Regions from separate parts of the Homo sapiens genome. Here region 2 is linked to region 1. A link means that fine-mapping ties the variant in region 1 to the expression of a gene that starts in the linked region. Tissue or cell type: whole blood. Region 1 holds a variant in brackets; the other region holds the start of a gene. All regions are shown on one strand. Distances are from middle to middle.

Region 1 (8,260 bases):
AAATCCAGAGTTCTTCTTCCATATCACATCTAGTACAGCACCTAGAATGTGTTACGTGGCATTATCAAGTTTAGTTTTAATAAGTTAAATAGCTTGTGAGGGGGTACAACAGAGCTTCCTTTGAGATATTTTCTTTGACAGTTCAGCCATTTAGGGTCCATAGAATTGTAGAACTGGAAGAGACCTTGGAGATCACCTGTTACAGCCCCCACATTTTACAGAGGCACTGAGCTCACTGAATGCAGCTGTGTCATACCACCTTGGTGCTCACCGAGCGCGGCCCAGTCGTACCACCTTGGTTCTCACTGAGTGTGGCTCTGTTGTACACCTTGGCATTGGTTTAACCTTTCTGTACCTCCTGAGCTCCCTTTTCACTAAGAGAAAACTTCCACTAAAACTTGAGCACTATTTTCCCATCCATTGAGTTACTTTTTTGTTCCTTTTATGTCAGAAGTCTTAGATTGTTGCTGATGATATATTTAAAGATAGCCAACTCTAGGTTATTTACTCCAGGAGAGGGGAACACTGTTATAAATCGTCTAGAAATCTATGATTATTTGGCCTTGCAAAGTACATTATACATTTTTCGTAATTTCATACATTTTGAATTATGTTTATATAGACTAATATTAAAAGTATTGTGCATTAGTTGGGTGTGGCAAGGGGCCAACAGCTTTTTCTGGAAAAGAGTAAAAGCAATTTTAAAGAAAGGACATATTTACAGAATAGCTGTTAGGAAAGTAGAGACTGTCAGTAAATGAAAATAGTTGGGATTTACAAATATACTGTTCACTAGACCTGATCATTAAACTGGGCTTTACAACAAGAACTGTACTGTATTCACTTTGTATCTCTAGATTCTATAAAATATAGTAGATACTCACACTGAATTGAATGAATGGATGATTTAAGAGCAGATATGATTATTGTGATTAAACATTTGTGTAGCCCTGAGCTTGTTGGTAGTTTAGGCAAAAACCATGTAACTTGTATAATAGTCATAATCTAAGAAAAATTTACCATTTCTTCAAAACAGGCAGAATTTTTAATTCTTAGAAGTGTGTTATTTAGTTTCCAAATATTTGGAGATTTTCCATCTTTCTATTACTGATTTCTGATTTAATTCCATTGTGGTTCCAGAACACCCTTCCTATAACTTAAATTGTTTTAAATTTGTTGAGACTTATATTATGGCTCAGAATATGACCTATTTTGGTAAACAGTCCTTGTACACATGAAAAGAATGTATAGCCTGCTTGTGCCTGTAATCCCAGCACTTTGGGAGGCTGAGGTAGGTGGATGACTTGAGCTCAGGAGTACGAGACCAGCCTGGGAAACGTGGCAAAACCCTGTCTCTACAAAAAATAAAAAATAAAAAATAAATTAGCTGGGCATGGTGGTGTGTGCCTGTAGTCCCAGCTACTTGGGAGGCTAAGGTGGGAGGATCGCTGAGCTGAGGAAGTTGAGACTTCAGTGAGCCATGATTGCACCACTGCATTCTAGTCTGGGTGACAGAGTAAGACCTCATCTCAAAAAAAAAAAAAAAAAAAAAAAAAAAAAAAAAAAAAAAAAAGAATGTATAATCCACTGTATAGGGTATTGTATAATGTCAATTAGATCAAGTTGGCTGATAGTGTTATTCAGATATTTGTTATTAGATATTTGATTTTTATCTAGTACTATCAATTACTGAAAGAGGGGTGTTGAAATACTCAACAATAATTGTGGCCTACAGTTCTGTTATTTTTTACTTAATGTTTTTTGAAGATATATTCTTAGGTGCATTTATGTTTGTTATGTCCTCTTGATAAATCGGCCTCATTGACATTATGAAGTAACCTTCTTTGTCTGTGATCATATTCTTTGCTCTGAAATTTATAGTCTGATATTAAATTCTAGGCTTCATTTTGACAAGTGTTAGCATGATATTTTTTTTTTTACTTTTAACCTATTGTGTCATTATTTTTGAAATGTATTTCATGTAGGCAGCATACAGTTGGGTCTTATTTTTTAATCCAGTTGGATGATCTCTGCTTTTTAAGTGAGAGTATTGAGACTATTTACATTTCATATGATTATTGATATGTTTGGATTCAAATCTGTCATTTTGCTCTTTGTTTTCTATTTGTTCTGCCTGTATGCCCCCTTTTTTAAGTGATTGCTTTAGAATTCATAACTTAACATAGTCTTCCTATGTAAATAGTATTGTACCACTTTATAGTCTACAAATCTTACAGTGGTGTATTTTCATTTCCCTCATCCCAGCCTTTGTTTTATTATCATCCATTTTACATCATCATATGCGATAAACCCCAAAATGCATTGTCACTACTTTTGCTTTAGATATTTATCTTTTTTTTTTTTTTTGAGACAGAGTCTCGCTCTGTCGCCTAGGCTGGAGTGCAGTGGTGCGATCTCGGCTCCGCCTCCTGGGTTCACACCATTCTTCTGCCTCAGCCTCCCGAGTAGCTGGGACTACAGGCGCCTGCCACCACGCCCGGCTAATTTTTTTCTACTTTTAGTAGAGATGGGGTTTCACCATGTTAGGCAGGATGGTCTCGAACTCCTGACCTTGTGATCTGCCCACCTCGGCCTCCCAAAGTGCAGGGATTACAGGTGTGAGTCACCGTGCCCGGCCTGGAAATATTTATCTTTTAAAGACATTTAAAAAGTAAGAAAAATAGTATTCTATTTTTATTCCTGTATTTACCAATGCCAGTGCTCTTCATTCCTTTGTGTGGTTCAGATTTCCATCTAGTAGTATTTTCCTTCTGTCTGAATGACTTCTTCCTTTACATTTCATATAGTGTGGGTCTTTTGGTATTCTTTCAGCTTTTGTATGTCTAAAAATGTATATTTCACTTTCATTTTTGGGAGGCATTTTAATTTTTGCTAAATGTAGAATTCTAGGTTGGCTGCTGTTTTCTTTCAGTTTTTTAAAGATTTTGTTTCACTGTTTTCTTTCTTTCCAGTGAGAAGTTTACTGTCATTTTAAATCTTTGTTCCTCTGTATATTAGAATTGGCTTCATTCTGGCTGCTTTCAAGACTTTTTCTTTATCACTGGTATTGAGCTGGTGTTTACATCTTTAATGTCTCTACTTAACATGTTTAAAACTTCCTCTGCTTTCTTTTTTTTTGTTTTTATAAATAAAGATGGGGTTTTGCCACATTGTCCAGGCTTGTCTTGAATTCATGGGCTCAAGCAATCCACCCGCCTCCACCTATCAAAGTGCTGGGATTACAGGTGTGAGCCAGGGCACCTGGCCTCCTCTGCTTTCTTGAAAGTATGAAATGACCGGGCGCCGTGGCTCATGCCTGTAATCCCAGCACTTTGAAAGGCTGAGGTGGGCGGATCATGAGGTCAGGAGATCGAGACCATCCTAACACGGTGAAACCCCATTTCTACTAAAAATACAAAAAATTAGCTGGCCGTGGTGTCGGGCGCTTGTAGTCCCAGCTACTCAGGAGGCTGAAGCAGGAGAATGGCGTGAACCTGGGAAGTGGAGCTTGCAGTGAGCCAAGATTGCGCCACTGCACTCCAGCCTGGGCAACAGAATAAGACTCCGTCTCAAAAAAAAAAAAAAAGTATGAAATATAGTTATAATAACTGAATTAGTGGCCTTATCTATTTATTCCATCATATGTGTCATATCTGGATCAGTTTTGACTGATTCCTCTTCTCCTCACTTTGGGTTGTATTTTTCACTTTTTTTTCATATCTTATAATTTTTTTTAAGTGAAAAGCAAGTTTATTAAGAAAGTAAAGGAATAAGAGAATAGCTACTCTGCTTGAGCAGAGCAGCTATGCCTTATAATTTTTTATTGGATACCAGACATGTGGCATGGGTGCTATTTTTGCTCTGCTATAAATATTTTTGAACTTTATTCTGAGATTGTGGTGGGTAATATTGAGTGTTAACTCGATTGGGTTGAAGGATGCAAAGTATTGTTTCGGGGTGTGTCTGTGAAGGTGTTAATATTCAGAGAGATTAACATTTGAGTTAATGTTAACGTAAGAGATTAACATTTGAGTCAGTGGGCTGGGAGAGGCAGACCCACCTGCAATCTGGGTGGGCACCATCTAATCAGCTGCCAGTGTGGCTAGGATAAAAGCAGGCAGAAGTTGGAAGGACTTGACTTGCTGAGTCTTCCCGCCTTCATCTTTCTTCCATGCTGGATGCTTCCTGACCTTGAACATCAGACTCCAAGTTCTTCAGCTTTTGGACTCTTGGACCTACACCAGTGATTTGCCGGGGGCTTTCAGGCCTTCAGCTACAGACTGAAGGCTGCACTGTTGGCTTCCCTACTTTTGAGGTTTTCAGACTTGGACTGGCTTCCTTGCTCCTCAGCTTGCAGATGGCCTATTGTGGGACTTCACCTTGTCATCCTGT[G/T]AGTCAATACTCCTTAATAAATTCCCCTTCATATATACATCTATCCTATTAGTTCTGTCCCTCTAGAGAACCCTGACTAATACAGAGATGGTATTTAGTTACTTTTGAATAATTTGATTCTTTCAAGGCTTGCTTTTAAGTTTTATTAGACAGTACCAGCCCAGTGGTTAGTCTAGAACTAATTTTCCCCGTGCAGCAGAGGTAGTACTCTTCTGAGTACTCTACCTGGTGCCTTGCAAATTGCAAGGTTTTTCCACACTGACTGGTGGGAATACAAACTTTTCTTGCCCAGTATTAATCTGGAGATCGTTTCTTCTGAGCCTTTCTAGTGGTTCTCTCCCTGGCCTCAGGTGATCTCCTGACATCTATGTACAGATCATTCATTACTCAGCTGAAGACTCCAGGACCCCCTCGGCAGACCTCTGGAGCTCTCTCCCTCAGGTCCTCTGCCAGCTCTCTGCCCTCTGCTTCTCTAGCTTCCTTGGCCTCCTCAGACTCTCAGTTTTGTCTTCTCATCTTAGGGAGATGGCTTATCTCTGCCTGGTTTCCCCTCCCTGCACTGAGGCCTGGGAACTCTCTGGTCAGCAAGCTGGGCAATCATAGGGCTCATCTCATTTGTTTTCCATCTTTCAGGGATCACTGCCCCATTCTGGCTAATGTCCAATGTCTGGAAGCCTGTTGATGTGTGTGTGAGTGTGTGTGTATGTGTGTTTTAGTACCTCTTCCTTTCTTTTTTTTAATTTAACTTTTAACTTTTTTAACTTTTAATTTAACTTTTTTTAACTTTTTTTTACTTTTAATTTTTTAAAAATTAAAAAAGTTAATTTTTTTAACTTTTAATTTAACTTTTTTAATTTAACTTTTAAGGGGTACATGTGCAGGTTTGTTATATAAGTATACTTGTGCCATGGGGGTTTGTTGTACAGATTATTTTGTCACCCAGGTATTAAGCCTAGTACCTATTAGTTATTTTTCCTGATCATCTCCCCACTTCACCCTCCACCTTCTGATAGGCCACAGTGTGTGGTGTTTCCCTCTATGTGTCCATGTGTTCTCATAAGTTAGCTCCCACTTATAAGTGAGAACATGTGGTATTCGGTTTCCTGTTCTTGTGTTAGTTTGCTAAAGATGATGACCTCCAGCTCCATCCATGTTCCTGCAGAGGACATGATCTCATTGTTTTTTATGACTGCATAGTATTCCATGGTGTGTATGTACCACATTTTCTTTATCCAGTCTACCAGTGATGGGCATTTAGGTTGATTCCATGTCTTTGCTATTGCGAATAGTGCTGCAATGACCATTTGCATGCGTGTGTCTTTATAATAGAATGCTTTATATTCATTTGGGTATATACCCAGTAATGGGATTGCTGGGTCAAATGGTATTTCTGTTTTTAGGACTTTGAGGAATCACTGCACTGTCTTCCACAATGGTTGAACTAATTTACACTCCTTCCAACAGTATATAAGCATTCCTTTTTCTCCACAACCTTGCCAGCATCTGTTATTTTTTGACTTTTTAGTAATAGCCATTCTGACTGATGTGAGATGGTATCTCATTGTGGTTTTGATTTACGTTTCTCAAATGATCAGTGATGTTGAGCGTTTTTCCATAGGATTGTTGGCCTCGTGTATATCTTCTTTTGAGAAGTGTCTGTTCGTGTCCTTTGCCCACTTTTTAATGGGGTTGTCTTTTTCTTACAAATTTGTATAGACCCCTTCCTTATACCCCTTTACTGCAAAAATTAACTCAAAATTAAAGACTTAAATGTAAAACCCAAAGTACAAAAACCCTGGAAGGCAACCTAGGAAATACCATTCTGGACATAGGAGTGGGATAAAGATTTCATGATGAAGACACCAAAAGCGATTGCAACAAAAGCAAAAATTGACAAATGGGATCTAATTAAACTAAAGAGCTGCACAGCAAAGGAAATTATCAACAGGGTGAACAGACAGCCTACAGAATGGGAGAAAAATTTTGCGAACTATGCATCTGACAGAGTTCTAATATCCCTTTCTTTTCCTTACACCACTCTAATCCAGATGCTTGGCTTCTTTCTTGTCAGACATGTATACCAGCTTTTGAATTGTTCTCAGTAAATAGAAGCTACCATTTATTGATGATTTATACAATGCTAAGCATTTTGCATGCATTTTTTAAATTAATGCTCACAACATTTTGTAACTCTTACTGATTCCTGTTTTACAAAAGCTGAGGCACAGAGAAGTTAAATAACTTGCCCAAGGTCCCACAACTGATAAGTAGTGGAGCCAGGATTTAAACATAGGTAGTCTTGTTCTAAGTGCCGGTGACCCCCCTGCCGGCGCTGCTCACTGCTCTCAGATTTGGCTTGCCAAGGGTCATCCTGGTCACATTTATTTCCCTCTCAAAAGTCTTCAGAGGCTTCACGTCACTTCCCAGATAAACTAAAGACTTTAGAGGATGGAATTCAAGATCCTCCACGACATGTCGTCAGTCTGCTTTTATAGCATTATCTTACATGTTTGAATCCTGTGTGTCTTTTAAGTTGAACTCGTTGCCTTATCTGAACTCAGGCACTTTCTCACTTCAACACTTTGATTCACGTATTCCTCTCTAATTAGAATGCTTTCACCCGTTATCTCTACCTATCAAAATCTTTAACACCTTTCAAGGATCAGCTGAAAAGCCTGCTCCTTCATTGAACTTTTCTGGATAAGCCCTGTCACATATGGTCTATCTCTCACTCACTCATTTTCTTCTTTGAACCTCTCTAGAATTCCCTGTATATGTCTTTTAAGGGTGTTATCACCAACTGCCTTGTATTTTGCTGTTAGTATACCTGTACATTTCCCATATTATATTGAAAACTCTGTAAGTGGGGAACAGATCTTATTTATCTTCTTGCCTTACTCCGTGATTCCTGCAGATCCTTGCATATAGGGTATAGTACAAAGCATTACACATAACGAGTAAGTGTTCAATACATAATTTGTTGAGTGACTGAGTGAATAAATTTTTGTTCTTCTGTTTGTTCTTTAGTTCATTCATCTTTTAAAGTAACATCTTGAAAGCAGGTTCAGCTCACATACAAAATATCTCATAGCGTTCTTTATATGGACCATTGCTCTCACCCAGAATATTTCTTAGCTTTTTTTATATTAAAGGGTGAAATGGAAGGTTAAGAGTTAGAAGCGTATTTGATCTTTTCCTGACCCTCTCCTGACTTTTGTGTGACTTCAAGCATGTCACTTGAACCTCCCAGTGACCTCAGCTGTGAAACGGGGCTGCCTGATGTCACAGAGGATTGTGAAGAGCAGCAAATCACAGTCCTTGTCCAAACTGAATCACCTGCAGGGTCTGACGCCTGCATGGAATGATGAGGGAAATTTAATTTTCCAAGCAAAGTGGTCAGTTGGACCCACACTTTGAATGTCTATGGGCACAATTAGATGAGTCCTTGAAAATCTGTTGCTTTTCCTACTCAAAATGTTTCTCATGTTATGCTTCTAAATGTTCTTATTTTTTAGACAAAAAAGCATATTGTAAATGTTTCCCTTTTTAGACTTCTGAGGTAGGAATATATTACAAGATATTTTTAAAAGAAGTTGAATTTTGGAAAGAATAATGTACCATGAATTTCTATTTTATACTATTGAATTTAGAAAATGTTCTGCCTCAAAGAGAACATTTTGAAAATGATGCTAATCACATTTTAAAGATAACTATTTCATAATGACCATGTGTAATTCATGAAACGTGTTTCTACCTTTTTGTCTGTTTGTTTGGTGCAGGTAGTCAAGACAATTGCAGATAAGTAGAGCAGAAAACAAATAAAAATACTGTTAGCCATCTTGTAAACAGAACCTTTTTATACCATTAA
Region 2 (8,000 bases), 94 kb before region 1:
TTAGAGAAATACAAATTAAAACTACAGTAAGATATCACATTATACCCAACAGGATAGCTACTATAAACAAATATAGAAAATAACCAGTGGTGGTGAAAACATGGAGAAATTGGAACTCTTATGCACTTTTGGTGAGAATGTAAAATGGTACAGCCACTCTGGAAAACAGTATGGTGATTCCTCAAAAAATTAAACATAGAAAATATGATCCAGCAATTCCACTTTTGAGTATACATCCCAAAAAGTCGAAAGGAGAGACAGGAACAGATATTTGTACCCCCATGTTCATATCAGCATTATTCACAATAGCCAAAAGGTGGAAACAACTTAAATGTTCATTGATAGATGAATGGATACACACAATGTGTTATATACACACAACAGAATTTTGTTCAGCTTTGAAAAGGAAGGAAATGGCCAGGGGTGGTGGCTCATGCCTGTAACCCCAGCACTTTGGGAGGCCAAGGTGGGTGGATCACCTGAGGTCAGGAGTTCGAGACCAATCTGGCCAACATGGTGAAACCCTGTCTCTACTAAAAATACAAAAATTAGCCTTGTGTGGTGGTGGGCACCTGTAATCCCAGCTACTTGGGAGGCTGAAGTGGGAGAATTGCTTGAACCCAGGAGGTGGAGCCTAGATCATGCCACTACACTCCAGTGTTGATGACACAGCAAGAGTACATCTTAAAAAAAAAAAAAAAAGTAAGGAAATGCTGACACATGTTACAACATGATGGACCCTGAAGGCATTATACCAAGTGAAATAAGCCAGTCACAAAAAGGCAGATACTGGATGATTCTATTTATATGAGGTATCTAGAGTAGTCAAATTCATAGAAATAGAAAGTTGATTGGTGGTTGCCAGGGGCTGGAGGGAAGGGGAAGTGGGCAGTTGTTTAATGAATATAGAGTTTCAGTTTTGCAAGATGAAAATCTGGAGATTGGCTGTACAACAGGATGAATGAATGTATGTAACACTACTGATCTGCACACTTCAAAATGAGTACAATGGTAAATTTTATGTGTATTTTATCACAAGGAAAAAAATCACTAGACATCTAACTTTTCAGTAATGTGTCTATTTTCAGTTAAATTTGCCAGTTAACTGAAGCCAATATAGGCCAGTTTTCATATTCCTTAGTGTTATCACACTGGTGCACTTACTGTTTTACCATTTTCCCTTCTGATTTCATTTTTCTGTTAGCATTTACTACTATCTAACATATATTTTACTCATTTGTCTGTGTTCCCCATCAGAATATAACTTCATGAGGGGAGGGATTTTCTATTACACTTAGTGAAAAGTAAATCCCTCAAGTAGGAACACTACAAGTAAGCACAGTTTTTTTTTTACAGTAAGTTTGCTTAATGGCTAGTAAACTATCTCAGCCAGTACCTGAGTGACTATTCTGACTTGTATCATTTAACAAGAAAAAAGGCCTGGCGCGCTGTCTCACGCCTGTATTCCTAGCACTTTGGGAGGCCGAGACGGGTGGATCACTTGAGGTCAGGAGTTCCAGACCAGCCTGGCCAACATGGTGAAACCTCGTCTCTACTAAAAGTACAACAATTAGCTGGGCGTGGTGGCACATACCTATAGTCCTAGTTACTTGGGAGGCTGAGGCAGGAGAATCGCTTGAACCTGGGAGGTGGAGGTTGCAATGAGCCGAGACTGCGCCAGTGCACTACAGTCTGGGTGACAGAGTAAGACTCCGTCTCAAAATAAATAAATAAAATAAAATAAAATGAAAAAAAGTACTAAATGCAAACTTCTTAAGATCACATGCAACTTCGATGTTAAATACTAAATATTCCTTAAATTTAGACAGTATTCAATTTGGTAAAGATCAGAAAGTTATATTTTGTCATTTATGATATCAAGTGGAATGTATTATCAGTGATTATGATGCTTCTCGCAATGAGAGTTATAACTTTCTGGAAAAATCCTTGCTCAAATCATCAAAGTTAAGATTTCTTACTACATAAAGGCTATGAAGAGCTGACGTGTAATTATATTGGCTCTGCAAATATTGGAACAGAAATATGAGTTTGCCATTAGTGTAAGAAAAGCTTCAGAATATGTATGCAAATTTGGCAAATTGAGTTGGTTTTCCCCACGGTACTTCGAATAAAAGAGACATTTTAACAAATCACAGGTTCATAGAAAATCTCTAGTTTCGTGGTCTATTTTCTAAAATAATAGGAAATGAACTTTTAATAAAAGTACATGAGGACTTTTGATGAACGGTTTATTTTTCACAGAAGTGAAGTGCAGGTGAAAAGGGGAAATTCCTAGAATATCTGAAGGATCTGACTAAATGAATTTCTACCTAAGCTATTGATTTACAGTAACTTAAAATGTGATAATTTATCTCCTACAATGGCCTTTCAAATTAAATATAAAAGTAACTCAGAGTAAAGTATGCAGAAAAAATTTTGGTATTGTAACTGAAAATGACCAACATTAATTTTTTTCTCTCACATTAATCAAGCACCTTACTGTTAGAAGGGAAACTGACAAGCCTCCTCAACCGAGTTTATACAAAATTCAACCCCAGAAAGTAAAGCCAATTCGTGCACCTTCATAAGAAAGAAATAAAGGACGAACCTACACATTACAATTTGTAAAGAAACTTCTGTAGAGGCACCATCGTTCTACAACCTTATGCACTTTAAAATCTGAGGTAACAAGGCATTTGAAGATAACCAAGGTTGGCCGGGCGCGGTGGCTCACACCTGTAATCCCCCCAGCACTTTGGGAGGCTGAGGTGGGCGGATCACGAGGTCAGGAGTTTGAGACCAGCCTGGCCAACATAGTGAAACCCAGTCTCTACTGAAAATACAAAAATGAGCGGGCACGGATGGCGCACGCCTGTAGTCCCAGTTACTCGGCAGGGGTTGGGGGCTGGTGGGGGTGGTAGTGCTGAGGCAGGAGAATCGCTTGAATCCGGGAGGCTGAGGTTGTGGTGAGTAGAGGTCGCGCCGTTGCACTCCAGCCTGGGCGACGGAGCGAGACTCCGTCTCAAAAAAAAAAAAAAAAAAGATAACCAAGGTTTATTGCTACTTCCGTGATATCACCATATCACCAACTGCGTAAGCAGTGCTATTTAGTTGAAAATACATGGACTAGACCGAATATTTCTGCAACAGTTTAATAAGAGACGATGATGCGACTACTGCAGCTGTCCCCAGGCAATTAAACTCTTCGGCGAATTTCTTTACTATTGCTTTTGAACAGGGAACTGTTTGCTATTTTAGGGCACTCGTGCGGTAAAGAACTTCACTGAAAAATGCAAATATGTTTTGCTAATGTGGGAGAAAGATGATGATCCTCTGAACCTGTGACTTGGAAGGGGGGATAAAAAAGAACTATTTCTTGAATTCTTGCCTTGCTCTTGCTGATTCGATGCACACAACCCCACGAACATTCAGATTCATGGCTTGACAAAGTGGGGATAACCGGGAGCTGCAGCCCCGTCTTTGAAGCTTTTGTAAAGACAAACGGTCTGCAATGTTAAGCCTTAAATTGGCTTTTGGCGGACTCCAGCCTTTTACCCTTCGTTTGGTAGATGTTTTCACCTCGCTGTCATTAAGCAGGGTCAGGAAATGGAAGGGCCGTGACCGGGTCGCCGCGGGCGCTCTGTGGGCGATGAGGGTCTCCTGAGCGAGCAAGACCAGTCTCTCCCCGACTCGCCACGCGCCACGCGCCGCGCGCCGCGCGCCGGTTCCTCGGCTTCCCACGCCGGGGGCGCATCCTCCCGGGAGCTGCTGCCCTTTTCCAACATGGCGCCGCGGGAGGCGGGTCCCGCTCGTCGGCTCCCGGGGTTCCGGCGCCGCGCGTTTTGGTTCCGGAGTAACAGTGTCGCCGCCGCCTTCCTCCTCCTCCTCTCGCCGCTACCGCCGTCGCCGCCGCCGCAGCCGCCGCCAGTCCGCGCGGCCTCGGGTGGCCGGAGCTCAGCCTGCGCGCGCCGCGCCCTGTGTCTCCGGGTGGGGCAGAAGACTCGCCCCTTGAACCTCCCGCGGGGACTCTCCGTGGTGTGGCGGCCCTGGGGCTCTTTCTTAATAGCCCCGGACTGAGTCCCCTCCAGTCGAGGACCCTCTCCTAGTCCACTGACGAGCGGTGGACACCTGCCGCTGTATCTCCCCCAAACCGAGTCCTTGCCCTGCTGCCTCCTCATACCCACACGGCGGCAGAGACCTTCACCATAGCGTTCGCTCAACTCCAGAACCTTCCGACCTCCGCTAGTTCCTGCGGGCCTTTGCCCGCTTCCCGGTGCACCCTCCCCGGGAGACACCTCAGACCCCCGACAGCCTGGGCAGGCTCGGTGCCTGCGGGTGCGTTCCTGATCACCCCTCCCCTCTTCCCTCCCCCTCATCCTCCATTCCCTTGTTTTCACCCTCTGTCCTCTGCCCGTCACTCCCCTTGTCACCTCTTGGAGCCCCCTCCTAACCAGCGGCCAGTGGGTTTCCCATACCCCAGGATGTGAGCCTCTTTAACCTGTAATGCTGTGGCTAGCCCTTGGCCCCTTTCCTGCCATGGAGAACCAGGTGCTGGTAATTCGCATCAAGATCCCAAATAGTGGCGCGGTGGACTGGACAGTGCACTCCGGGCCGCAGTTACTCTTCAGGGATGTGCTGGTGAGTGGTAATCTCAGTGTCCGGATGCCAGCAAGGGGGACTCAGGGACTTGAGTAGTCAGCACCTTGACCACTGGTGACCTGAGCCAGTGGCAATGGCTACTGCTGGCTTCCTGTGGAGGCAGTTTTATTGCTTCAGGCACAGCATTGATAAATTGCAACCACTAAAACCTGGCAAATGTCTAGGACCCTGGGGAGATAGATCAATCTGACTGAACCCCTGCCCTCAGAGAGCTCATGGCCCGGGCTGGGACACACATATAGACACAACCACGCAAATGCAAACTGCTGAATCTAGAAGAGAGGTTTTTTCCCCCCAAGTGTTTCGGGGAATGTCCTTGGACAGATTCCAGCCTTGTTTTTCTACTGAGTTCTCTGAACTTGGTGACCAGCTGAGAAAGGGAAAAAGGACAACTTTAACTTACCATGTTTGAGCACACTGTTTCATTAATTTATTTTGAGACAGGGCCTCACTCTGTCGCTCAGGCTGCAGTGCTGTGGCACGATCTCGGCTCACTGCAGCCTCTGCCTCCTGGGCTCAAGCGATTCTCCTACCTCAGCCTCCCAAGTAGCTGGCACATGCCATCACACCTGGATAATTTTTGTATCTTGTAGAGACGAGGTATTGCCATGTTGCCCAGGCTGGTCTTGAACTCCTGCGATTTGCTTGCCTCGGCCTTCCCAAAGTGCTGAGATTACAGGTGTGAGTTACTGTGCCCAGCCTGAGCAAACTTAAAGCATCATTGAATGTAAGACATTTTACTTAGAAAAAAATGCTAACCATGACAGTATGACACATCATCCGTTATTAAAATGAGTCCAGTTTCAGAGACGGTAAAAGTAAGGGAAAATGTGCATCTTAGAATTGGTGATATTTTACATTCAGATTTTTCAGAATATATTTCAAATAAAATGATGGAATTTTAGAGCAGAGTGTAACACTGTAGGTGGCCTGTTCAGCTGATGTTTCTTTTTTGCAGATAGTTACTGAGGAGCAGTGAGGTGAAATGGCTTTTCCAAAGCTGTGAGCTCCTGAGTGGGAGAGTCAGTACCAGAACTAAAATTTTGTTTCATTGACTTAGTAGGTTTCTTTCCCTACATGTTGCAGCCGCTTCTAATCTTTCTGGTATTCATTTGAGATAGACAGGGTGCCTTGTGCCCATTCTACATGCAGAATAACTGAGGCATGGAAGACAGAAGCGGACATTCCGAAAAGCACATCACTACCTGCAAGTTAAGAGTGGGCAAGGTGGCAGGATCTTGGGAAGAGGAAGATTTGTGATGTGATTTTTCATTGTCTTGGGTAACTTAATCAAAATTTGATTTCTATAACTTCATTTTGAGTTCTAGATGTTACTGACTGCCCAGGCCATGCAGATTTTTGGGTGCCTTGACCAGGAGCTTTCCATATTGTGCATCAAATGCCATCCTTCTCTTTGTATCCGGAGTTCTCCACACAGTCATGCACATACAGATTTCCCCTCATGATAAGGCCCAGGCTCCTTCATGTGGTCCTCTGGGCACATCTGGATTGGCCCCTGTCTGCCTGGCACCTGTGTCATCTCTCTTCACGGCCCCATAAACTTCTGTGCCTCACTTACATAGGTTGATTTTCATTTCTCCCAGGTGTCCAGGCTGTCTGCACTCTGCTCTTCACCGGTCAATTCCCACCTGTCCTTCCAAGCCAAGTTGTGCTTTTTCTCTGTGTCATTCTTGGTTATGTGCCCCACCTCTGTGTCGTCACAGCTTTGTGTGGGTCCCCCAGCAAAGCACATGTTTGATCATGATTCTTTGTCTCCTCCACTAGATGGTAAACTTCTGGAGGAGATAGATATGTTTGTTTTTGTTTCTTCATAGGACCCCAAAATACTTGTTTAAGAAGGGAGCTTAAAAGAGGATGCATGCAATTATGGTTCTGTGGACAGAACACTAGGTTTAGAGTCAAGGAATTTGGGTTTAATTGCAAGCTGTCCCACTGACTAGGCAAGTCAGTCTACCTCTCTGAGCCTTAGTTTCCTTATTTGTAAAACAGGGAAACTTGTACCTTCCTCAAAGACTTGGAAAGATTATGTGAGATTGTGACTGTGATGAGAAAGATGGGTTTTCTCTTACTCATTTAAAACAATGGAAGGTTGATTATTATGTGATTATATTATTTGGTTATGTGATTATTTCAAGAATAGCCCAGTGTTTAAGACCACAAACTCTGGAGCCAGGTTGTTTAACTTGCAAGTTGTACTACTGGGGCAAGTATCTTCTGTATCTCAGTTTCTTTATTTGTGAAAAAAAAGTTGGGGAGGGGTGAAAGTAATGCCTACCTCCTAGAGTTCTGAGGACTCCTTGAGTTGATACATGTAAAGCACTCAGAACAACTTAGCACATAGTAAGCGCTCCATTAGTGTTGTTATTATTGATGGGATTGTTATTATAAGGGATTGGACTTGGGTCTTCTGTTTCTTGAGCATCTCTAAGTTGTACCTGGCTCAAGGCTGACTGGCTTAACAGGAAACACGAGTGGCCCCACCACTAGAGCTCAGCATGCCAGGTGTCTGCACACTTTTGGCTAGGTAAGCCCAGGTGGAGCATGTTTTGTCAGAAAGGCCTGACGAAGGACCTGTGGCAGTGGGTGTTCAGTGCTATCTCCTAGTGCTCCATTTTAGCAAATGTTCAAGCCCAGATCATGGCAGACTCCTGTGATCTGTTCTCCAGGTTTACTTCATCTCTTCATCAAGAAAAGGCAAGAACCAAGAGACACGTCAGCATCTCTGGCTTGGAACCTTAAACTTTAAAGTCACGTGGAACCTGGAAGAATCCCCTCATCTAATTCAGACTCATTTCGAATGAAGAGGCATGAACCCCACAGGGGGAAAATACCTTGCTAAAGCCACCCAGCTAATTTTTGGCAGAACCTGACACAGATGCCAGAAGCAGGTTGTAGTCACCGAGTCAGCCATAACTGAGTGTCTCGGACCTGAAGTCAGCAGTTGAGGGCTCCAGTCACTGTGCATCAAATAGCTGGGAGACCCTGGGCAAGTCAGTCGGTCTCTCTGGGCCTTGTCTTTTGTCTGAATCATCAGGGACTGGCTGAACTATGGAGGCTGACCTGACCCTCAAAGGTAGAGACATTTGGGTCTTCTGTTTTGCAGCTTTCTGTGTTTCTCTTTTTCCCTGGAGACTGAGTTCCTAGTTTTGGGAAAACTATACAAGAGGTCTGGTTAGTGTGTGATGAGAGAGAATGCCCAACCCTCTCCCCTCTTCTTTTTGTATTCTGTGGTCTCCAAGCTCAGATTTCCCCTCATCTATAAGACTTCTGGGCCAGGAGTGGTGGCTTAGGCCTGTAATGCCAACACTTTGGGAGGCCGA

The links. PIP is the estimated chance that this variant, and not a neighbour inherited with it, causes the effect.
Region 2: it holds the start of MAP2K5, and the variant in region 1 is fine-mapped to the expression of MAP2K5 in whole blood (INTERVAL, PIP above 0.99).

What each region holds. Positions count from the first base shown.
Region 1 is chr15:67,632,837-67,641,096 of GRCh38, forward strand. The region is part of intron 9 of MAP2K5 (mitogen-activated protein kinase kinase 5); the gene reads left to right. Among named protein-coding and RNA genes, the nearest start is that of MAP2K5, 94 kb to the left of the region's middle. The variant G/T (reference allele first, on the strand shown) is at 4,393.
Region 2 is chr15:67,538,833-67,546,832 of GRCh38, forward strand. It overlaps MAP2K5 (mitogen-activated protein kinase kinase 5), which reads left to right and starts at 3,871. Exons shown (of 22, transcript NM_145160.3): 1 at 3,871-4,638. The coding sequence starts at 4,504. It overlaps MAP2K5-DT (MAP2K5 divergent transcript), which reads right to left and starts at 3,798. Exons shown (of 1, transcript NR_186334.1): 1 at 2,236-3,798. RefSeq lists enhancers at 688-777, 2,811-3,311, 2,964-3,013 and a silencer at 3,887-4,006.